Linked DNA regions of Homo sapiens. The protein of the gene in region 3 purifies or fractionates together with the protein of the main gene of each other region. This does not show direct contact. Each region holds a gene or a part of one and is shown on either strand. Other genes may lie near its edges.

Region 1 (5,996 bases), on a different chromosome or scaffold from region 3:
GAGGTCAGGAGTTTGAGTCCAGCCTGACCAAAATGGAGAAACCCCGTCTCTACTAAAAATACAAAATAAGCTGGGTGTGGTGGCGCACGCCTGTAATCCCAGCTACTAGGGAGGCTGAGGCAGGAGAATTGCTTGAACCCAGGAGGCAGAGGTTGTGGTGAGCCGAGATCGCGCCACTGCACTCCAGCCTGGGCAACAAGAGTGAAACTGTCTCAAAAAAAAAACCAAACCAAACAAACAAACAAACAAACAAAAAATGCAAACCTGATCTCATCCCTCTTGCTCTTCACTCTTCCATGGCTCCCCAGTGCTCTCAGGGAAAAAGTCCAAGTTTCTGCCTGCAGCCCACAAAGCCTTGCCTGATCCATCCTACCAGTTCCCTGCTTTCCTGTTGTGCATTCTCCCCTAGTTCCCTTCCCACACAGACTCTCTCACGATTACTTAAGTATACTGAACTCACTGAAGCCTCAGGACCTTTGCACATGCTGTTTCTCCAACTTTGAACACCCTTCCCTCTTCCTCCATCTCACACCCAAAGTCCAGCTCCAATGTCCCCTCCTCCAGGAAGCCCTCCCTGCTCCTCTCCCCAAAGGCAGAGGATGAGGATATCTTTGGCCCAGTTCTGACCAAAGGGACTTAGAGGGTCAGTGTCAGCTTGTCCCACCCCAGCCTGGGGCCGAGGCCTCTCAGAGGTCTAATCCAGTGGTGCCCAACCTAGCACCCAGGGCATACCTGAGGAGTGAATACAGGCCCTCTCTACCCATGCCCACCAAATGCTCCCAGTTTGCTCCCATTGGTGGGCGCTGACCTGTTGCTGGGCGTGGAAAAAACGGCCAGGACCACGGGCCGGCCCCCGAGGCTGACCACGCCCGTGACAGCCTGCAGCACGTTGAAGTAGAAATGGGAGTCTCCGGGTACAGAGCAGTTGAGCCGCGCCTTCAGGAAGGACGTCCACTGCTTCTCCAGCACGCGGGGGGAGCCTCCCACGTCGTTCTTGCACACTCGGGCCACGCGGGACACCACCACCTGGGCGTGACAGTGGACGGACGGGGGCCTGAGCTCTGTGTCCCAGGAAGGCCTGTTCACAGGCTGTGCCACTCACCACCCAAACTGTGATGGAGGAGTCTGACCCTGGCTCTGGTGGGACCCCGGCCAGTCACCGTTCCTCTCTGGGCACCGGCTTCCCTGGCAGAAATTCCCGGTGGGAATGTCAATGATGATAATAGCAACAGTGACAACCATAATCATCACTGTTTCCACGAAGACCCACATTTTATTCTCACATCTCTTACACTCTTCCCGAGGGGGGCCTACTGATATCCCCCCATTGTACATGTGGGGACACTGATAAGAGGCACAGATAAAAGGAAGTGACTGGTCCAAGGTCACAATAGTAGTTAGTGGCAGTCTGTGCACTTCAGCACTGCCTGGTTGCCTGGATGGACGGATGAGTGGATGAGTAGATGGACGGACGATTACAATGGAGGGATGAGTAGGTGGATGGATAAATAAATACATCTGAAGAAGGATGATAGATAATGGAAGAGATGGTGAAGGAGAACAAGGTAATCAAGCAATTGGTAGATAAGTAGATGGATGTGTGGGTGGATGGATGAACAGATGGATAGAGAGAAAGCTAGGTGAGTGGATGGATGGATGCATGGATAGGTGAATAAGTGGATGAATGAATGGATGGATAAGTGGGTGGATGGATGGATGGATGGATGGATGGGTGAGTTGGGTGGGTAGATGGTTGGATGGGTGAGTGGATGGATGGATGGATGGATGGATGGATGGATAGGTGAGTTGGATGGGTGGATGGTTGGATGGGTGAGTGGATGGATGGATGGATGGATGGATGGATGGATGGATGGATGGATGGGTGTGTGGGTGGATGGGCAGATAAATGGATGGATAGATGGGTGGGTGCATAGATGATGAGTGGGTGAATGAGATGGATGGATAGATGAGATGGAAGGGTGGATGGATTGGCAGATGGATGGATAGATGAAGGATGGATGGATGGGTGGGTGGATAGGTAGATGGATGAATGGATGGGTGGATGGATTGGCAGCTGGATGGATGGATGGATGTGTGGATGGATGGATGGATGGATGGGTGGGTGGGTGGGTGGGTGTGTTGGTGGATGGGTAGATAAATGGATGGATGGGTGGATGGGATGGATGGATGGATGAATGGATGGGTGAATGGATTGGCAGATGGATGGACAGATGATGGATAGATGGATGGATAGGTGGATGGACTGATAGATGGATAGGATGGAAGGGTGGCTAGATGAATCGATGGGTGGATGGATGCATGGACAGATGGATGAGTGCACGGATGGATGGTAGTGGGTGGATGAGTGAGTGGGTGGGCAGATGAGTAGATGGATTAATGGGCTCATGAAAGTGTGGGTGGGCTGAAGAACAGACAGATGGGTAAGTGGGAGGGTGAGCAGGTAGACGGATGGACAGGGGATGAAGGATGGATAAGTGATTGTGGCTGGGTGGGTGGGTGGACAGGTGAACAGCAACAGCACCAGGTGTATCTGACTTCCAACTCAAGTCCCTCGTCAGGGCTGAGTGCTCCACGGCTGCTCCGTAGATGTCTTCAGCCTCAGGGCCTGATCATGGCTGGAAAGGAGGCCCTGGGGACCAGAAATGGAGGGCAGGACCCTCTCACCCCATGCAGGGATTCATGGATCCACCTCTGCCCCCTCACTTCGCATGATCAGAGCCTCTCAACTTCATGCCCCACTGCACCGGCCTCACCTTCTCCAGGTAGTTAAACTCCATCGCAATCTCCCGGAAGAAGAAGTAGACATGGCTGCCCCACTCCACCGCATGGACAAAGTAAGGCTCTGCAGGACAGGAGGGGTCAGAACTCAGCCCCTGACATGACAAAGGGGGTTTCTGGGGCTAAGAACTCACTGGCTTTTATGGTGAAGGGGGGACATAGGCTGGTTACCCAGACAATATGAAACAGACTCAAAGTTTGGTATTTTGCAGGGGAAGGGAGGTCAGAAGCCTAAAATCGCTGTGTCTCTTGCTGCAAATGGCAACATCAACTATTTTTTGTTATCTTCCTCCCTCATGTGTTGAAGAGCTGAGTCCTGCTATATCTTTTCTGTGGTTCCATTTTGGGCTTCTAAGCCACCCACTTCCAGCGGGTTCTACTTTAGATCCAACTAAACTTGTTCCTCTAGCTTTCTAGTCTTCAAAAAGGCCAACAGATTCCAAAGATGTGGTGGAAATCTCTCCACCAAGCTCCTCTGGGACTCTTATTCTGGTGGGGAGATTTGATGAATGTCAGGTTCTGGGCCCTGCCAGGTCTGGGCCCACTGCCCTTCCTGGTCTCACCTTTGAACCACTTGGAGTCATGTTTCACGGTGCGCAGGGTGGGCCTGTCCCCGAGGCTGCGGTAGATGACAGCATCAATGGCTAGGAAGTCGGTAACAGTAGCTGTGAAGAGCATCCCGTCTGGATGGGGTGGGTGGGGAAGGCAGGCAAGAGATGAGACCGCAGAGGCCAGGGGCTGGGTGGGTCGAAACTCGATTTTCTGAGACTGAGTCCTGAGCCTAGGGGAGCCCCTGTCTCCAGGCTGAGCCCTGATCCCATCCAAGCCCCACCTCCATCCAAGCCCTGACCTTAACTGAGCCCCTGACCCCGGCTAAGCCCCAAATCCCGCTGAGCCTCAATCCCAGCTGAGCCCCAAACCTGGGCTGAGAGTCTGCCCATGTCACAGCTGGGACAAGTGGTCGTCCAGCTGCCTTCTAAACAACCCAGACGCTGGAGTAGAAAATGCCAGGTCTTGCCTGTGGCTGGGGCTGATCAGATGGAGGTTGGGGGGGTACTTACCAGAGAAGAGGGCAACATTGGCGTGCTTGGGGTCGTACGGGCAGCGGGCCATACCGCTGATGTTGTCTCCGACGGGCTGCAGGGTGTCTATCTGCAGGGACCATGGGGCCTGAGTGACAGATCTCCTGACCCCACCTAGCAGCCCCTGGCTCCCTCAGCCCCCCACTCCAGGGGGAATCCTGATCCACCACGGATTACTGTGTGACCTTGGCCACTCACTTAACCTCTCAGGGCCTCAGTTTACTGATCTGTAAATGGGTTTAAGAGTCAATGCCTAGTTAGACCTGTAACTGGCTCATTACCTAAGTAGCTACGGCTTCCCCGGCCCCCTGTACAGGCCTCGTTTGGACAGCGCTGACTCCTCTTGAGCTCAGGGGGAGGAGGCAGGGAGAGTATATCCAGGAAGGCTTCCTGGAGGAGGTGACACGGCCTGGGGAAAAGCCATGGCCAGCGGAGGTCGGGCGAGCAGAGGCCTGGAGGTTGGACCTGGGGCGCAGGGAGTCTGAAGACTCACGCTGTAGTTGGCGCACACCGGGTTGAAGGCGTTGGAACCGCACACAAAGAGCGTGGACTCGTCCCGAAGGAGCAGCACCTTTACGAAGTTTCGACACTCGCCCTGAGGTGGGGACAGGAGGAAGCGGGGAGCGCGATGTGGGCGTGGTCATGGTGATGGGCGTGGCCAGAACCTGAGTTGTGTGGGTGGAGGGCCGGTCTGTTGTGGGCATGGCCAAGGCAGGGGCTGAACCTAGGACTGGCTGGGGACACGGTGCGACCCAGACAGGGAAACACTTTGTATCAGCAACGCAGGCAAGGCCAGGATGGTGGGCATTGTCAGACTGTGGGCATAACCATGGCAATAGCAGAGTCCTAACCTGGGATGGAGGAGAAGGATCCGCCCTGGGTGTGGTCACGGCCGATTGGGGTGGGGCATGGTCGTGACCAGAACTAACTGGGGCGTGGTGGGCACGGTTATAGCTGATTGGGGCCAAGTTGGGAGCGTGGCCAGAGCTGGTGGGGTGGGCGTGGCCTGGGCTTATTGGGGCGGGCCGGGGGCGTGGGGGGCGGCAGGACTGATAGGGGAGGGGTCGGGATGGGGACCTGATCGATTGGGTGGGGAGTGAGCTATTGGGTGGCGTGTGAACATGGCCTGGGCTTGTTGGAACGAGGCTGGGGGTGGTGGTAGGACTGACAGGGGCAGAAGTGTGGGCATAGCCAGAACTATTTGGGGCGTGGTTATGGATAATTGTGGCTAGGCTGGAGGCCGGGCTAGGACCAATTGGGTGGGGACGTGGACGTGGCCATGGCTGTTTGGGGGTGTGGCCAGGGCTGGCAGTTGGGCGGGGCCAGGGCTGATTGGGGGTGGGTTGGGGCGTGGCCAGGGCTGGCGGGGTGGGCGTGGCCTGGTCTGATTGGGGCGGGGCATGGGTAATGCCAGGGCTGATTCGCAGGGGCCGGGACCGAGCCAGGGCCAACTCACCTCCTGTTTGCCCTTCATCCGACACACGTTTATGTCGCTGGGGTTAGATCTCCAGGTCAGCTTCTGCAGACAGAGAGAGCTGGTGAGGGGGTAACGGGTCCCAGCAGCCCTGAGTGACCCCGCCGTGCTGGGCCGAATCCACCCAGCTCCCCGGCGCAGTGCCGCGTCCCCCTGGCCCTACCCCTCCACTCCCACCTGCACCCCTTCCTCACCCTCTGGTACCGCAGCTCCGTGGACGTGGGGGGCTCCAGCTCTACGCGGTAGAGGTTGTCCCTGGGGGAGGGGCATAGTTAGTGAGAACTGGGGGCTCCGCCACCCTCTCCCGTTCCATCCTTCCCACTGCCAATGTGGTGTGCACACGGGGGCATGCAGGGCCATGCCAATGCCTCTGACACGAGCAACTCTAGCGCCGACCACACCCCCCCAAGGGCCCCAGCAGGCCTTCATATCCTGCACTCCACCTCCTGCCCGGCACGCCCCACGGACTGCCCCCAACACCATGTCCCATGGCCTTAGGTCAGGTGCCCCACTCGGCGCCTCCCAGGCGCCCACCAGGCTCTCTCCCCTCACACCCTTGCCGAGGAAGCCGCCCTGCTCAACGTCATTGGTGACCTCGTGTAGTTAAGCCCAGTGGTCACTTCCGCATCCTCCTCATCCTC
Region 2 (5,996 bases), on a different chromosome or scaffold from region 3:
AAACTCCTTAATGTTTTTTCTAAGAGAGTGTGTATGCATGTATATGTGTGTGTGTTTGTACACACATCACTTGACCATCATAAAGTTTACTGTTTTTCTTCTAGATCTTTTGGCACTGGAACAAGATGCTGTCTTTGGCCTGGAATCCCTACTGGTACTTTGTAGTCAAGATGATAGTCCAGGTGCTCAGGCCACTTTAAAGGTGAAAACTTTTATTTATTAAGTTGTAATAGATATATATGATGGTCTTAGGCAATAGAAAGCAAAGTTAAGCAGACATAGCTCCTGTACTCTTAGAAGTTTTAATCTAAGTGATTAAATCTAACTGATAAAACTACACTGATTTAATCTAACTGATAAAACCACAAAAAAACTGATGACATGACTGCAGCCGACTCATAAATGTTCATTAATTTAACATAAGCGTTCATTAATTTCCCAGTGGTATAAGCCCTAGTTTATAAGCCAAGGGAAGAATATTTTAAGGAATTTTCACCTTCACTTAGTTACAGAAATCATCTTAGAGATATGCAAGATTTTTAAAATGTGAAATGAGGCCAGGACAGTGGCTCTCATGCCTATAATCCCAGCATTTTGGGGCGGTCAAGGTGGAAGGATTGCATGAGCCTAGGAGTTCAAGACCAGCCTGGGCAGCATACTGAGACCCCATCTCTAGAAAAATTTTTTAAAATTTAGCTGGACATATTGGGGCACACCTATAGTCCTAGCTACTCATGAGGCTGAGGTGAGAGGATTGCTTGAGGCCGAGAGGTTGAGGCTGCAGGGAGCCATTATTGCACCACTGTTCTCTACCCTATGTGAAAGAATGAGACCCTGTCTCAAAAAAAATAAATAAATAAAATGTGAAATGAAACTACTCTTTTTGGAGTGAAACGTGAAATATAATTTGTGATGGTGCAAAATTAATGAGGAGAAGCATAGTTAATAGAAGTAAGAAACTGTTAGATAAACATTGGCGTTAGCTTGTCTAAGGTGTGGTTTCAAGGAAGTCATGGCTCATTTTAGCAGGTTAAGGAAAGTTGTGATATGGTCATAGTGATGAACAATAAAGATAGTAACATCATTAAGTGACAGCTAATAAGAAGTAGAGAAGGGAAGTAGACAACATGTGTTTGGCAACACATTCTGAGGGGGATCCTCAGAATCCCCTTGGAACCACAGTACATTTAAGACTTTTTTTAAAAGCAAATCTTTTTTCCAACAATTGTGGGTGTCAGTAAAATGCTGGATTCAGCACAGTGGGACATACATAGATGGCCAAGAAAGGTTCCTGTAATAGAGGAGCTTCCCATCTAGAATAGGCTACTGATGTTTATATAGGGGACTATAATACCAAGCGGAACACAATACATTCTCTGATATTTCACAAAAAAAGTGCAGTTCTAATGAGAGGTCAGAGTCGGGAGTGATTAACTTTAACCAAGGGTATTAGGGAAGACTTTAAATAAATGTCATATGAGTTGAGTTGTGAAAGATGGAATCGAATTACAGTAATGAGGAAAGATTGTTTGAGCCCAATGACTGCTGTTATAAAAGACTTGAAAGTAAGAATGTACCTGTTGTGGTGGAAGAATGGTGACTAGCCCACTGTGGCTGGGTGAAATAATTTGAGATTTGGAAAAGTAGTTCAGTCATAGAGGATATCAAATAACATGGTATTATGGCTTTGATTCTATAGGTAATGAGGAGATAATATAATTTTAAAGTAATGGTAACCTTTGTCGTAATTATTATTGTTATTTGAATGTCTATTATGTGCCAATCTTTGTTGAAGACTTATATATACATTTGTTTCAGTCCTTCAATAACCCTATAATGAAATGTGTTCTCCTCTTATACACATCAGAAACTTAAGGCCGAGAGAGAGAAGTACCTTGTTCAAAGCCACCTAGCTAATAAGGGGCAAGCTGAGCTTCAGCCCTTGCATTTATCAGACTCTAAAGTTATGTGTGTGCCTGACACCCCACTGATGGCTACATGGCTGCATTGTGAAGGATGGATTGAAGGGCCCATCTTTTCAAGAAATTGGAATTAGGAAGAGATTTATGATGTGGTAGAGAGAATGGAAAAGTGCCAACAGTGGATATTGGAGGCTTGACAAAAGAATCTGTTAGCTATGTAAAAGTGGGAATATTTCTAGGTTTCTAGTTTTTTGGCTGGATATTAGTGATGCCTTTAAGAAGGCCTTGGTAAGAGAAATTCTGTAGCCAAATTGGTTTTTAGATTTCAGTTGAGAAATAAGAGAAAATTGGGAACCTCTTTCCCACTTCAGTGTACTTAGAGTCATCTAAGCCGTCTTTTTAAAACTGTGAAACCTCAGTAGCCTCAACACACACACACACGTATGTTAATTCAGGAATCTATATTTTTATTTTCATTCTGGGAGATGCTGGCATAGTTTACAAGCCACACTTCAGAAGCAGTTCCTGAAAAGTAATGATAATACAGTGATGGTGACATTTGGCCTATATTTGCCTCTTCAGCATTATTCCTTATGATTTCCATCTTTCTTAAAAGTATTTTAATAGTCTTAGATTGAAATGAGTGGTTGACGTGCAGTCCTAATTTGTTATTTTAAACGTAGTGCACTTCACAAACCCTAATGTGAGATTCAGTACCTCATATTTCTTATGAAGTAAAATGTTATGCCTACAAGAAACCTCACCCTTGAGTTTCCCCAGTAACCTGTACAAAGCTCTTTTCCTTAAAGCTTCATCTGTATCTTCAAAATGTAACTAGTTCATTTTCTTTTTGGCGTGCAGATTGCTCTAAACTGTATGGTGAAGTTGGCCAAGGGCAGGCCCCATCTTAGCCAGTCAGTAGTTGAGACCTTGTTGACTCAATTGCACAGTGCTCAAGACGCTGCCCGGATTTTGATGTGCCATTGCCTGGCAGCCATTGCCATGCAACTGCCGGTGCTGGGTGATGGGATGCTTGGTGACCTCATGGAGCTGTACAAGGTGATTGGACGATCAGCCACAGACAAGCAACAAGAACTTCTGGTAAAAAGCCCATTTTGAATCTCCTTTGAATGACTAGGATCTGGTCTAGTGGGAATTACTTTTAAGTCAACATTACTATTTGACTTTACTTAAAAAACAGAACAAACAATAGGTTAAATTCATTACCTAAGACCAAAGAGTGTGCTGATGTCAAAATAGAATTGGCTTTATGAGCTTTTTACTTTTTTCACTTTTGATTTAGAAAGCCGTGTTTTGTTCACCTCTAAAACTGCTTTCTTCCGAAACCCTGTCAAATCAGCCTAGTATAGCCAAAGCCTTCAATCTCATGTTTTTTTTTATTGCAAAGGACAGAATGAAAATGAAATTTTTATCTTTCTTATACAGAGTAAATAATGAACTAAACCCTGTTTTGTACTTTAGAAAATAGAAGTTAAAAATCTAATGATAATAATGACCATAAATTAGCCCAAATTTATGTTTTCCATTCCAGGACCTCTTTAGCTGTTTAGGATCCAGTTTAGGCTTCTGTAGACCCTTGAGGTTGGGAAAGGTACATGCTTAGAAAGAAACAGAAGCTGTGGAAGCTATAAAATGTTTAGTTGAAAAGTTCTGCAGGACTGAGAGTAGGCTACATTCTAAATAATTGTAAATTAAATGAAAGTTGTAAGGTTGCCATTCCATATTGTTCTGTTCATCTTAATTTAGAATGTGGGAAAAAATATAATGAAATAATTTATTCAAGCCTGTTTTATGTTTAATCCTCCAGAGGGAATTGTGTAAAAGATTGACCCCATCCCATCATTTGCTGCCAGAAAAGGTTACCTTGATGACCAAATGTATGGATCTTTATATGAATCAGCTTTGAAATATTAAGAGGCAGTTAGCTAAGTTTATTTTTTATTGAAGTGGCATTTTGAACTAACGGTCCTGATATCTTTTTTGTGAGTACTACCTTAAGATTGTCTTAAATTATGAAACATAATATTCAAAAAATCTGAGGAATAATACAGTGAAAACTCTTGCATTCATTATCTAGCTTAAGAAAAAGGTATTAACAGTTTAGTTGAAGCCCCCTGTTTACCTTGCTGATAGCATCTCCTCCCTTCTCTCAGGTAACCACTATCCTGAATTTGGTATTTATCATTCTCATGCCTGTTATTCTTTTACTACCAAAGTGTATATCCCTAAGTAATATGCAGTATTTTGCATATTTTTAATTTTATGTAAACTTTATCATACTACTTGTAATCTTTTGCATTTTGCATATTTTTGCGTATTTTGCTTGTCATCTATGTTGGTAAGTCTGTCGCTAGTTTATCCATTTTATTTACGTATCTCATTGTTTGATTATGTTATATAATTTATTCATATTATGGGTATTGCTTCTACTTCTTTGCTGTTATAAAGAGTGCCCTGAGTGAATGGAATAAATTAATGACTTCAAAATAAAAAATTAAATAAATGTCATTGGAAAACAAATTTTGTTCTTTTGCAGTGGGCTCTAATTAGTTTTCCTCCCTTTGGGGTAGGTTATCAATGACACTGAATAAAATTAAATGATTTTCTTGGTTTTCTTCTTGCCCAATGTTAGGTGAGTTTGGCTACTGTGATTTTTGTTGCAAGTCAGAAGGCATTGTCTGTGGAAAGTAAGGCAGTAATTAAGCAGCAGCTTGAAAGTGTCTCCAATGGATGGACTGTATACCGTATTGCCAGACAGGCTTCCAGAATGGTATGTGTTACCCTTCTGAGTGAACTGGGTTGCTGGAAATGTCAGATCATGTATCTTCAATTGTATGATTATTAGTTGTAGTCAAAACTAAAAATAAAGATGGAAGTACCTTTTAGTCATGGGTTCTGAAGATGAGGAAGGAAAGGACCTGATTTTTAACTTTTATCATAAAAGAATGGTATCTATGTTGTTGGCATTAGTAATGAGGAAGTTAAAATCTGGACCCTTTCTGGCTGTAGGTTGTTAGTGCCACTTTCATTTTGCTCTGTATTGTTATAACCAAGGCCACCTACCACCCGCTGTTTCTATCTTCCTTTCTCAGTATACCACATCTTTGTTCCTCTCCCCAGTCTTGTCATTCTTAAGTAGAAATGGGAAAGCTTTAGTATGCTGTACTCTTCTCAGCCATATGGAAAGCCTAACAAGTTTTATTAATTTTGTTTGAGAGGAAATAGAAACCTTGGTTAGTACAGAAATCCTGGCCGGGTGGGGTGGCTCACGCATGTAATCCCAGTACTTTGTGAGAGGCCAAGGCGGACAAATCTCTTGAGGCCAGGAGTTTGAGACCAGCCTGGCTGACATAGTAAAAGCCTGTCTCTACTAAAAATAAATTAAAAAAAAAAACCTTGGGGATAAGTCCAGAGACCAAAGTTTGAGGAAGCATTACTCTAGGTGATTGAAGTGCATGTTCTTAATTTTATGTTGCTTCTCAAATGGGGGAGAAGCACACACTCTTGGCAGGACAATTCTTCATTATACTGTTCTGTCCCAAGCACTGCAGGACATTGAGTATCCCTGGCCCCAGGCATTAAATGGTATTCACATTTCTCCCTGCAACTATGCCTTCTCCCCTGGGGTTTCTCTCACCCACTAAATAGTTCATCTAGAATAACATAAAAAAGTATTTATACTTCCTGTATTTTGGGCTAAAGTTCTAGACTTGGTTTATAGTTGATTCCATTTATTTTCTCTTTCGGAACTGTTTTAGTAAAGAATTTCAAGCATTATGTTACATAAAAGCAACTCAGCATATTTTCTCTGAGGAAATATTTAGACAGAGTCTCAGCGAATTACATAATATGAGGAATGATTGTTCAGACTTATCCAAGGTTTGGGTTTCTCTTTTAGCTGCTGCATCAACTCTTTCAAATGTAAGAACCTCACCGTGTGCTCCTTCTATTCTTTTTTCTTTTCTTTTTTTGTTTTTAGGGTAATCATGACATGGCCAAAGAGCTTTATCAGAGTTTGCTGACTCAGGTTGCCTCAGAACATTTCTACTTCTG
Region 3 (5,996 bases):
TGCCATTGCACTCCAGCCTGGGCGCCATTGCACTCCAGCCTGGGCAACAGAGTGAGACTCTGTCTCAAAAACAAAAAGAAGATTAGTGAACTGGAATAGAAGGACAGAAGAAACTGTTTAAAATCAAGTACAAAGAGAAAAATAGATGGAAAATGTTGAAAAGAAGGTAAGAAATGCAGAGGATACAGTATGAAGGACTAATGTTTAATTGGTTGACATTTCTTAGATGGCAAATATTAATATCATTTTTCCATTTTTCAAATTCACTATTTTATTTGCCTGAATTTTTTTTCTTATATTTTTAAAATTAAAATTCTTCAGGATCAAATTTCAACATCAATGTTTGCCTGAAGTTTGCTCCGGAATTTGTTTTATTAAAGTTATTGTTAGCCAGACGTGGTGGCTCACACCTGTAATCCCAGCACTTTGGGAGGCCGAGACGGGCAGATCACGAGGTCAGGAGATCCAGACCATCCTGGCTAACACAGTGAAACCCCATCTCTACTAAAAATACAAAAAAATTAGCCGGGCGTGGTGGCAGGTGCCTGTAGTCCCAGCTACTTGGGAGGCAGGAGAATGGTGTGAACCCGGGAGGCTGAGCTTGCAGTGAGCTGAGATTGTGCCACTGCACTCCAGCCTGGGCAACAGAGCAAGACTCCGTCTCAAAATAAATAAATAAATAAATAAAAATAAAAAATAAAGTTATTGTTGGCCACACATGGTGGCTCACGCCTATAATCCCAACACTTTGAGAGGCCGAGGCAGGTGGATCATTTGAGGTCAGTAGTTCAAGATCAGCCTGACTAACATGGTGAAACCTCGTCTCTTCTAAAAATACAAAAATTAGCCAGGCGTGGCGGTACATGCCTATCCTCCCAGCTACTTGGGAGGCTGAGGCAGGAGAATCACTTGACCCCGGGAGGCGGAGGCTGCAGGGAGCTGAGATCGTGCCATTACACTCCAGCTTGGGTGACAAAAGGAGACAGTCCCCCCAAAAAAAATAAAAATAAAAGTCATTTTTGAGTGTTCCAGATTAAGGAGATTTTCCTGTGTTTTTTGTTTTTTGGGTTTTTTTTTACCCAGAAGTTTTTTTTTTTTTCCTGTCTTTGAACTTTCAGGGCAATAAAAAGACTCTTTATCAGTTAAGAAAGGAAACAGATTAGCTGACCACCTTGCCTGTTAGAACATACCTGTTCTTCCCTGGTGTTGATCACCACCAGATCAGCCCCCATCACAGAACAGTTCTTTTGACTCTTAGTCCAAGATTGCATCCCAGTAGAAATAAAGTAGCAACTAGACTGAAATGAAGTCCAAGGGGTTGGGCAGCAGCTCCAATCTTCCCAAATGAGTATAGAAGAAGAAAAAATATTAACAGAGAATTCTCCTCACATAAAGTTATAAGCTTAGCTTGCTAAGGTTTAATTAGTTTTCACCTATGGATCTCCACGGATTTTCCAAAGCTGAACTCATTTACTGGTGTATTTACTAATCCCTAGATCATTTCACTCTATACAGGGACCAGCAAACTTCCTGCAAAAGGCCAGATAGTAAATATCTCAGGCTTTTTGGGCCATACGGTTTCTGTTGCAACTGCTTAACTCTGCTACTGCAGTACGAAAGCAACCACTGGCAATATGTTACCAAAGAAAAAAAAAAGAACATGAGTATGGCAATAAAATGCCATTTACAAAACTAGGCAGCTTGTTGAGTTTGGCCCATGCCTTAGTTTTCCAGGCCCTGCTTTAAACCCACAAAAATGATCTGAAAGACAAATACTTTAACTTCAGGTTCTCATCATTCATTGGTGGTCATATATGAACCATGTCCACATCTTTAGCAAAAATAAGCTTCGCAATGTTATATTTGTCACTAATAATTATAGATATAAATATCATTTAGAGTTTAGCATCCCATTATAAAGAATGAGTCCAGAGTAAGACATATCTGGGTTGCAACCTCATTTTCTGTGCTGTAATTTTGGGAAAATTATATAACCACTCTAAGCCTTAAATATTTTTCTTTTCGTTTGTAAATGGGAATATTTCTCACTCAGAATGTTGAGAGGTTGAGGTGACATAATACATGCAAAACACTTAAGAGCAGTACGTGCTGAAAAATATCCATCTCTCCTCCTTCGAAGCACCAGTTTCTTCCACTGTCAGCACAAACGAGATTATATACATTCCCTCTAACAAACAGTGACAATGTAGACCATATCAAAATGTTTTTCTTTATATTTTGACATACATTATACCAAAATAAATATTTAAAAATTTTTTTAGAGACAGGATCATGCTTTGTCATCTAAGCTGGAGTGCAGTGGCATAACCATGGCTCACTGCAGCCTTGACCTGGATTCAAGTGATCCTCCCACCTCAGCCTCCCAAGTAGCTGGAACCACAGGGGCACGCCACCACACCCAGCTAATTTTTTTTGTATTATTTGTAGAGACAGAGTCTTGCTTCGTTGCCCAGGCTGATCTGGAACTCCTGGGATCAAGTGATCCACTGGCCTCAGCTGCCCTGAAGTGCTGGAATTACAGGCATGAGCCACTGAGCCTGGCCTCCTATGATAGTTTTGTTTTGTTTTTAATTATACTTTAAGTTCTAGGGTACATGTGCACAACGTGCAGGTTACATATGTATACATGTGCCACTTTGGTGTGCTGCACCCATTAACTCGTCATTTATGTTAGGTATATCTCCTAATGCTATCCCTCCCCCCTCCCCACCCCACAACAGGCCCCAGTGTGTGATGTTCCCCACCCTGTGTCCAAGTGTTCTCATTGTTCGATTCCCACCAGTAGTTTTGAAAAAGAAACTCTTGTCATCTTTTTACCTCTCACAGTTTTTCCCTATAAGTAAAGAATGAATTATTTCATTCTTTTTTTTTGAGATGGCATCTCGCTCTGTCGCCCAGGCTGGAGTGCAGTGGTGTGATCTCGGCTCACTGCAACCTTCGCCTCCCGGGTTCAAGCAATTCTCCTGCCTCAGCCTCCGGAGTAGCTGGGACTACAGGTGCCCGCCACCACGCCCAGCTACTTTTTATATTTTTAATAGAGACGGGGTTTCACCATGTTGGCCAGGATAGTCTCAATCTCTTGACCTCGTGATCCGCCCGCCTCGGCCTCCCAAAGTGCTGGGATTACAGGGGTGAGCCACCGCGCCTGGCCTGTTTCATTCTTGAAATAATTGTTTGATGCCCTTTGGGTCCATATTTCCTTCCTGCAAAGGATTAAGGCCATAGAGGCATTTCTGGGGTGGAACTTGTCTCCCTCCGGCTCTGCATACGACGCTGTAGGCAGTCCCTGATCCTGGACACAGCCGACCAATTATCCCTGAGGAGGTGAGTAGGCCTGGACTAGGGAGCAACAGTTTGGCCTCACTCTAGGCCATATTTCATGGTTTGATTTTACCATCAATAAAGCTGATAATTTTATTTTATTTATTATCTTTTTTTTAGACAGGGTCTCACTTTGTCACCCGGGCTGGAGTGCAGCAGTGTAATTGCTGCTTACTGTAGCCTCAACCTCCGGAGCTCAACTGATCCTCCCACCTCAGCCTCCAAAGTAGCTAGGACTATAGGCACATGCCACCATAGCTCGGTAATTTTTTTTTTTTTTTGAGATGGAGTTTCACTCTTATTGTCCAGGCTGGGACAATCTCAGCTCACCACAACCTCCACCTCCCAGGTTCAAGTGATTCTCCTGCCTCAGCCTCCCGAGTTGCTGGGATTACAGGCATGCGACACCACGCCCGGGTAATTTTGTATTTTTAATAGAGACAGGGTTTCTCCATGTTGGTTAGGCTGGTGTCGAACTCCTGACCCCAGGTGATCCACCCGCGTCGGCCTCCCAAAGTGCTGGGATTACAGGCATGAGCCACCGTGCTGCGCTTGGGTGATTTATTTTTAAGTATTTTGTAGAGTTGAGGTCCCATCTTGTTTCCCAGGCTGGTTTCAAGCTCCCGTGCTTAGGTGATTACCCCTCCTCAGCCTCCCAAAGCACTGGGATTACAGATGTGAGCCACTATGCCAGGCATAATTTTATTCTTATCTGAATCCTGTGTATATTTATTTTTCAGTTAATCCAGAACTGTATAGGGAGAGGGATATATTTACTGTTGAACTTAGTGATTAATTGGATGCAGGGGTGAAGATGATAAGCAAAGAAAAACTGCTGGCCAGGCACGGTGGCTCACGCCTGTAATCCCAGCACTTTGGGAGGCCGATGCGGGAGGATTGCCTGAGCTCAGGAGTTCACGACCAGCCTGGACAACAAGGTGAAACCCCGTCTCTACTAAAATACAAAAAAATTAGCCGGGCCTGGCAGCGTGTGCCTGTAGTCCCAGTTACTTGGGAGGCCGAGGCAGGAGAACTGCTTGAACCTGGGAGGCAGAGGTTGCAGTGAGCCGAGATCGCGCCACTGCACTCCAGCCTGGGCGACAGAGTGAGACTCCGTCTCAAAAAAGAAAAAAAAGAAAAGAAAGAAAAAAGAGAAAAAAACTGCTAAGAATGATTCTTGAGTTTTAGGCTTTAATATTGATGGGAGCAGGAGGAAGTGAGACAGTTCTGAGGACCCCTGTTTGATACTTTAATTTTGAGGTGTCTATTTTTTTTTTTGAGACGGAGTCTCGCTCTGTCACCCAGGCTGGAGTGCAGTGGCGCGATCTCGGCTCACTGCAAGCTCCACCTTCTGGGTTTACACCATTCTCCTGCCTCAGCCTCCCGAGTAGCTGGGACTACAGGCGCCTGCCACTGCACCCAGCTAATTTTTTGTATTTTTAGTAGGGACAGGGTTTCACCGTGGTCTCGATCTCCTGACCTCGTGATCCGCCCGCCTCGGCCTCCCAAAGCGCTGGGATTACAGGCTTGAGCCACCGCGCCCGGACTTTTTTTGCATTTTTAGTAGAGATGCGGTTTCTCCGCATGTTGGTCAGGCTGGTCTCAAACTCCAGACCCTCAGGTAATCCACCCACCTCGGCCTCCCAAAGTGTTGGGATTACAGGTGTGAGCCATTGGGCCCAGCCTGAGGTGTCTATTTAAGATACCAAGTAGATAGTTAAAGAATGCAGTAGGAAAAACCAGGCTGCAGTTGATAATTTTAGTGCTGAAGATATAAACCATCAGACTAGGAATTTGATTAATAGCAAGGGAAGTCTTGTTGCCCATTGCAGAGTTGTACCTTCTATGTCCTTTCCTTCCATGACGCAGGTCAGGCTTGGATGATACTGTTGATACTCTCGTAACTTGGACAGCCTCTTGACAGTTTTGCTATACATAAAATTGTGAGGCACTGGGAAAGAGAAATCGGAGTTAGTTCTCATTCTTTTAAGTGGATCTATGTTGTACTATACAATCTTATGCTGTGGACAGGCACAGTGACTCACGCCTGTAATCTCAGCACTTTAGGAGGCCGAGGTGGGAGGACCATTTGAGGTCGGGAGTTAGAGACCAGCCTGGCTAACATGGTGAAACCCCGTCTCCACCAAAAATATAAAAATTATCCAGGTGGCCAGGCACAGTGGCTCACACCTGTAATCCCAGCGCTTTGGGAGGCCGAGGCTGGTTGGATCACTTGAGGTCAGGAGTTTGACCAACATGGTGAAACCCCGTCTCTACTAAAAATACAAAAATTAGCTGGGTGTGGTGGCGGGCACCTATAATCCGAGCTACTTGGGAGGCTGAGGCAAGAGAATTGCTAGAACCCAGGAAGCAGAGGTTGCAGTGAGCCGAGACCGCGCCATTGCACTCCAGCCTGGACGACAGAGCAAGACTGTGTCTCAAAAAAACAATTAGCCAAGGGTGGTGGCAGGCGCCTGTAATTCCAGTTACTCAAGAGGCTGAGGCAGGAAAATCACTTGAACTTGGAAGACAGAGGTTGCAGTGAGCCGAGATCGTGCCATTGCACTCCAGCCTGGGTGACAAGAGTGCAACTCCATCTCAAAAAAATAAATAAATAAATAAATAAAAATAAAGAATCTTATGACTTTACGGCT
Region 4 (5,996 bases), on a different chromosome or scaffold from region 3:
ACTGCCTGCATTAGGGAAGAGGCTTCTTAGCAAGGTTAACACATGTTTAAGGTCCTTCAGCAACTGTCAATGGTAAAAAAAAAAAGTACAGCTGTTAAAGCGGCCTTGGAGTTGCCCTGACAAACACACCGTCACTTTAAGAAATAAGACTATAGCTCAAATAACCAGTTATCAGGAGGTAACTGGATCTTTGTGTTTCACACCTGAGGAATAGCATGTAAGCACGTAGTATAAAAGCTGAAGCTATAGCCACACGCATTTCTTTACAGACCAGGAACTAGAACAGCTTGGTGTTTTCTCAACTTTATTGTGGACAGGAGAAGGGTAAGTAGACTTGAAGGTTTTTTATTTTTTAATGAAGAAACAATTTATCCTGTGTTTGATACCAGATGAGACTGTAAGGGTCACATACTCCTTAAGCCTACACATCAATTCCAGGTGAAGTGCTTCAGGCTTGGCTCATTCTGACACCTAAGAAGGGCCCTCTAGGCCACGGTTGGGAAGACTGTTTTTGCCTTAGCGCCGTGCAGGTTTGGGCATTATATAAACTTTTACAGGCTTGCTGAAGGGAATGGTGCCCTCGATGCTGGTTTCCACCTGTGGTGACATCTCACCACCCTCCATCCAGGGGCATTTTGGAATGCGAGCACTGGAGTTGTAGGCCAGCAGCAGCCTCACTTCCACCTGGCATGCCTCTGAAAAAAAGATAAAAGAAATCCTCTATAACTAGGCAACTGCTAGGAATGAGGATGAAATGTGAAGTTAAAGAAATATCAAAATGGAAGCAGTAGGGAGAAATTTCTTCATCCGTCTACATTCCCTCCCCTTACCCTCACCAAACAAAACACTGAGCCTGCAGATGTGATGCTGTTCCATCACCTTCCCCTTGGGCTCACTGTGGCACAGAGCCAAAGCTGCTGAGGCAACTGGAGAGCAAGCTAAAAACCCTTCCAGGAAGATAATTGCTTCATGATCTGCTTTATGAACTGGGCTCAAATTCTTATGCAGGTGTGGATTTGGGCAGTTTCAGAAGGTGCATGTGGCTTATTCTGATACCCAGTTGGGCTCTTCCTGCGCAGTTCCATCTCAAGCCTCAGGGCTGCATGTACCACAGACTACTTTATTAGTGGAGAGGAAGCCTTTGAATAGGAAGTGGTTCGCCAAAAAGTTTCTGGCCAATGAACAGGAACATGTCTCAGGGACCTAAAATGTCTGAAAACATCTCATTCTTTCATTACATTATCTTACGATATAATCATCTAGTGTCTCTATGTGGCAGGTCCTAGCAAGAATAATTAAGAACTCCCCTCAAGTTGCCTGCTGTTTGGTTGAGGAAACAGATAGTTGCAATGGAGTACAACACACGCTCTAACCAAGCCTGCAAGAAGTACTGAGGAGGAGCGCAGGAAGGCTTTGGAATAGAATATCCATTCTATGCCAAACAGTTAACCCCAAGAGTTCTTATCCTGCTACATTATGAAAGAAAGACTGTCACAATCTTGGCAAAAATCCCAAGAATCAGATAGGTTCTCAGAGACTCCCCAGATGCACACCTGGGTAAGAATTTGAGCCCAGTTCATAAACTGAAGCAGTTACTCATTCTATTAACCACAAGCTTCTATAAAGAAGAGGGAGAGAATTTCAGAAAAATGTAAGGGCAAGTGCAAAGGCCAGGAATGGAGTGAGCTTGGGATGTCTCCTTAATTTGGTGCAACCAGAGCAAAAAGTGTAAGTTGAAGATGATCCCAAGGCTAAGAAGTTCAGAGGGTAGGAATGAAGGCTAGATGGATCTAAATTAACAAGGGCAGAGACTCCAGGACTTCTCAGTGCCTCCCCAGACCTCTTCCTGGTTACATCCAAGCTTCTCTCTATGGGTCAGAGTAGAGACTGGATTGCTGTCCTCCAGGAAGGGAAAGGTTTGCAGTCAGCCCAAGGCCAGAGCAATCCAGTGCACCTCAGATTTCAGCATGAGATCTAAGTGCAGCCTCATCATCAAGTACCAGCCATGTGATAAGCACACACTCACATGACAACATGAGGGTCATGCAGCAGCCATGAGTGTAACTGTCATGAAACTAACACTGTTCTCTGATACCAGGCTCCAGATGAATCTCCCACTTAGGGTGGAATCAAAATAGGTACCTATATCTGCTTTCCTGCCACACTCTCCCATTCCATCCCAAGTGGCAGACCACAACCACAGCCCCAGTTGGCATAGCACTTTCAAGAAGCCAAATCCTGGTAAGAGCTGGATAAGGCTCAAGCCTATAATCCCAGCACTTTGGGAGGGCAAGGCAGGAGAATCACTTGATCCCAGGTGTTTGAGACTAGCCTGGGCAACATAGTGAGACCTGTCTCTACAAAAAATAAAAATAATTAGCCAGGCATATAGTCTCAGTTACTAGGGGGACTGAGGTGGGAGGAACCACTTGAGCCCGAGAGGATCACACCACTGCACTCCAGCCTGGGCAACAGAAGGAAACCCTGTCTCAAAACAAACAAACAAACAAACAAAAAAACAAAAAAACAAATAAATCCTGCTAAGGTCAGAGGGAGTTGATGTAGGACTCAGCCCTACAGGGTCATTTTGCATTCCCTTACCAACATTTGATAAGAATGGCAATTCAAGGCAATGCCATAGGAGTAAAGCGGAGAAGAGAGAAAACAAGAAGGAGGGGAACTTGGGAGAAGGAGACAAGATCATCTAGGATAACTCAAGCAACTTCTGCGTCATGCCTGGAAGAATATTTCTCCTAGCAGGTTTATATTCTTATTCTCATCTTAATGAGACAGGGAAGTAAAATAACTTTCTCAGGATCACACAGCAAAGGAAGCAGAATTTGAAACATGGTCTATGACTGAGCTTCCTACGTGGCAGCATCCTGCCTCCCAGAGGAGAGGCCCCTCCCTGGTGGGGAGCTACTGAGGGATTGAAGGAGCTCCCTAGAAACTCCAGGCCCCATCACCTAGATTAGGAGAAAGAAACTGCAAGCTCATTTACAATGAGACATATTTCACTTCAGTGCCCCAAACCGGAAGGGACATAGCACAGTGAGGGCTGGGAAGGGTGACTGCAGCTTTAGCACTGTCACTGATCAGGTATGTGGGCCTCCATTTATGTATCTGTAAAATGAAAAGAGAATACTAATTTCCACTGCAGAGTTGGTCTAAAGATTAAATGAATTTTTATTGCACATTTAAAACCTTGTATTCAATTTTCATTATTTGTTGAGTGCCTACTACATGTCAGGCACTAGAGACACAGGCTACTAAAACAATGGAGATACAGAGGCAAAGACAAGCAAGTTCCCTGCTCTATAGAAGCCTACATCCTAATGGGAAAGTCAGTAAGTAATTAAATGTGAAAACACATCTGAAACCAGTACGCACTATATATAAACAATTAAAACAGGGATTTGTAATAGTGACTGGGTAGCGACCATTCAGAGGAGGTGATCTTGTTTTCTTGTTTCTGATGGTTTTTTTTTTTTTCTTTTGAGTCAGGGTCTTGCTCTGTTACCCAGGCTGGAGTGTAGTGGCATGATCAGGGCTCCCTGCAGCCTTGACCCCCCAGACTCAAGCAATCTTCCTGCCTCAGCCTCCTGAGTAGCTGGGACTACAGGCACATGCCACCATGCCCAGTTAACTTTTTTATATATCTATTGTAGAGATAGGGTTGCCCTATATTGCCCATGCTGGTCTCAGACTCTTGGGCTCAATCGATCCTCCCACCTCAGCCTCCCGAAGATTACAGGTACAAGCCACCAGGCCTGGCTGTGATCTTGTATAAGTTAAAATTATTCAGGCTCAGGATCGCCTGGCAATACAAAACAAGGAAGTCTGCAATGAACTAGGATACCTTAAGAGGAAATGGGGCCTAGGAAAAAGAACCTTGAGCTTGGGGGCAGATCAGCTGAGTTCTAACTCTGGCCTTGGCAATGACTTGCTGTGTGACCAGGGACAAGTCAGACCCTCTCAAGACCTTCCACGATCTTTGGAGCTACAGCATACTGTAATTTGCTTTCCTGAGCCTTGTCCCTCCCAAAACAATACTGTCCCACAGCATTTCCTTCCCCATGTCCGGGATCCCTTCAGCAGAAGATATTAGAATAAGGAATCTATTTTCCTGTGGGGCCAGTGGTTTGGCAAATAGTGCAAAAACATTCCAGGCAGCCAGATTATGGAATGAGGAATACTCAGGGAAGCACGTCCTGGGTAGCAGAACTGCTGGATGCTCCCTCAACTACACCAGGCCTACCACCACTAGAACCCCAAAGGGGCTGCCCTAACATCCAACAGCTTCATAAAGTCATCATTACCCATCTAACACCCTGACAGAGGGAAACCATTAATAAAGGCCCAGCGCAGTGGCTCATGCCTGTAATCCCACTACTTTGGGAGGCCAAGGCGGGTGGATCACCTGAGGTCAGGAGTTCGAGACTAGCTTGGCCAACATGACGAAACCCTGTCTCTACTAAAATACAAAAAAATTAGCCAGGTGTAGTGACGTGCACCTGTAATCCCAGCTACTCGGGAGGCTGAGACAGGAGAAGCACCTGAACCCAGGAGGCAGACAGAGGTTGCAGTGAGCCGAGATTGCACCACTGCACTCCAGCCTGGGCAAGAGCAAGACTCCGTCTCAAAATAATAATAATAATAATAATAATAGCCTTATAATTATGTGTTTAAAAACACAGAGTGAAAGAAAATTCCAAAAGGCATTCCCTATCTCTAAAATAAACCAAATTTGGTGGCATTAAACACCTCCAGTAACAGTGCTCCTGAACCATCTCCAATTATTTGGGAAACACCACTGAGGCCAATTCTGCCCCCTATTCTAGGTTCTGCAGACTGAGGTCTTCTTAAGTTTTTTAAAGCAGGCTTACAGGCTTGAAATGTAATCTCCTTTGTACTTGTATTCTCCCATTTTATCCTCACAATTCAGACATAAGTTGGCAAATGAAAAAAAATATTTTTAAAAATCCTCACAACTAATTTGTAGGTTGAGAATTATTATTGTCATTTGGAAGATAAGGAAAAAGACTCAGAAAGGGAGAGACTTGTCTAAGGTGACCAAGCAAGTCGGTGGCAGTTAGGATAAGAATAATCTCCTGGTGTCCAGACCAGGGCCCTTTCCATGAGACTCCATTCTATCATAATCGCCTGTATATCTTCCAACAGAATCTTATCTCTCATGCAATCAAAGCACTGTAGCAAATTAGCCCAAATATACCCAGTTTTTTACCCACTTAATGAGTGCTTATAAACTCATTAAGTTCAATTCTTACAAGGCCTGATTCATCCATGTATTTTTTTCAAACTTTAAAAACCAAACGCTTAAGGGTAGGTGTGATCTCCAGCAGCATATTTCCCTTCCCACCCTGGTCCTGACTCCTTACCTGTCCAAGCGGTGTGGGAGAGATAAACCTGAGTGATGAGCCGGTGCCGCCCTGGGCCAGGATTCCGGAAGTCTGCAGGCTTGGGGTGAATCATCTGAGCCTGGCCATCTGGATATAAGACCTAAAGGGTGACAGAAATGAGAAAAAGGCAGAAGCGAGAGGAGCATTTAACAAAATGGATGATGACATCTGTTGTGAACCTCAAAACACAAGAAGAAACATGACACCAACTTTACTAAGATTGAGCCTTGGGGGTAGGTCAACACTGTAGACATCTCTATTCCCCTAATCCAGCATGAAGCAGTGTTCAGTAAACATTTCCTGAATTCATGGTGAATAAGTAATATGAACAGAGTGTCTCTATTAAGCGCAAAGACAGGTAAGAATATTAATTCTTATTATGAAAAGTGTTCTCAGGCACCTTCACCAGAAGAGCACTCCCTCCCTGGCTCTGAATCATACCATGGCCCAGCATCCATCACCAACCACCAGTATTTGGAGTTATTTTGTAATTGCATTCTTTCCACTACATTGCAAGCAGCTAGGAAGTCATTTATCTCTCTCTCTACGGAGAGACGGCTCAATGAAGAGTCCACT

Evidence for each region.
Region 1: the proteins of CLEC4C (region 3) and SEMA6B purify together in Homo sapiens (affinity purification with mass spectrometry; one large-scale study listed by BioGRID and IntAct). This does not show direct contact.
Region 2: the proteins of CLEC4C (region 3) and INTS7 purify together in Homo sapiens (affinity purification with mass spectrometry; one large-scale study listed by BioGRID and IntAct). This does not show direct contact.
Region 4: the proteins of CLEC4C (region 3) and INTS4 purify together in Homo sapiens (affinity purification with mass spectrometry; one large-scale study listed by BioGRID and IntAct). This does not show direct contact.

What each region holds. Positions count from the first base shown.
Region 1 is NC_000019.10:4,551,614-4,557,609, forward strand, and holds part of SEMA6B (semaphorin-6B precursor), read right to left. Parts: intron 5,611-5,996; coding exon 5,550-5,610; intron 5,401-5,549; coding exon 5,338-5,400; intron 4,477-5,337; coding exon 4,375-4,476; intron 3,952-4,374; coding exon 3,861-3,951; intron 3,483-3,860; coding exon 3,363-3,482; intron 2,864-3,362; coding exon 2,775-2,863; intron 1,027-2,774; coding exon 809-1,026; intron 1-808. UniProt on the Homo sapiens protein: Functions as a cell surface repellent for mossy fibers of developing neurons in the hippocampus where it plays a role in axon guidance.
Region 2 is NC_000001.11:211,975,299-211,981,294, reverse strand, and holds part of INTS7 (integrator complex subunit 7), read left to right. Parts: intron 1-104; coding exon 105-202; intron 203-2,783; coding exon 2,784-3,023; intron 3,024-3,750; coding exon of another isoform or gene 3,751-3,849; exon of another isoform or gene 3,850-4,463; intron 4,464-4,575; coding exon 4,576-4,713; intron 4,714-5,922; coding exon 5,923-5,996. UniProt on the Homo sapiens protein: Component of the integrator complex, a multiprotein complex that terminates RNA polymerase II (Pol II) transcription in the promoter-proximal region of genes.
Region 3 is NC_000012.12:7,736,239-7,742,234, forward strand, and holds part of CLEC4C (C-type lectin domain family 4 member C), read right to left. Parts: intron 5,294-5,996; coding exon 5,183-5,293; intron 1,337-5,182; coding exon 1,191-1,336; intron 1-1,190. UniProt on the Homo sapiens protein: Lectin-type cell surface receptor which may play a role in antigen capturing by dendritic cells. Specifically recognizes non-sialylated galactose-terminated biantennary glycans containing the trisaccharide epitope Gal(beta1-3/4)GlcNAc(beta1-2)Man.
Region 4 is NC_000011.10:77,878,433-77,884,428, forward strand, and holds the end of INTS4 (integrator complex subunit 4), read right to left. Parts: intron 5,521-5,996; coding exon 5,400-5,520; intron 696-5,399; coding exon 517-695; 3' UTR 325-516; downstream 1-324. UniProt on the Homo sapiens protein: Component of the integrator complex, a multiprotein complex that terminates RNA polymerase II (Pol II) transcription in the promoter-proximal region of genes.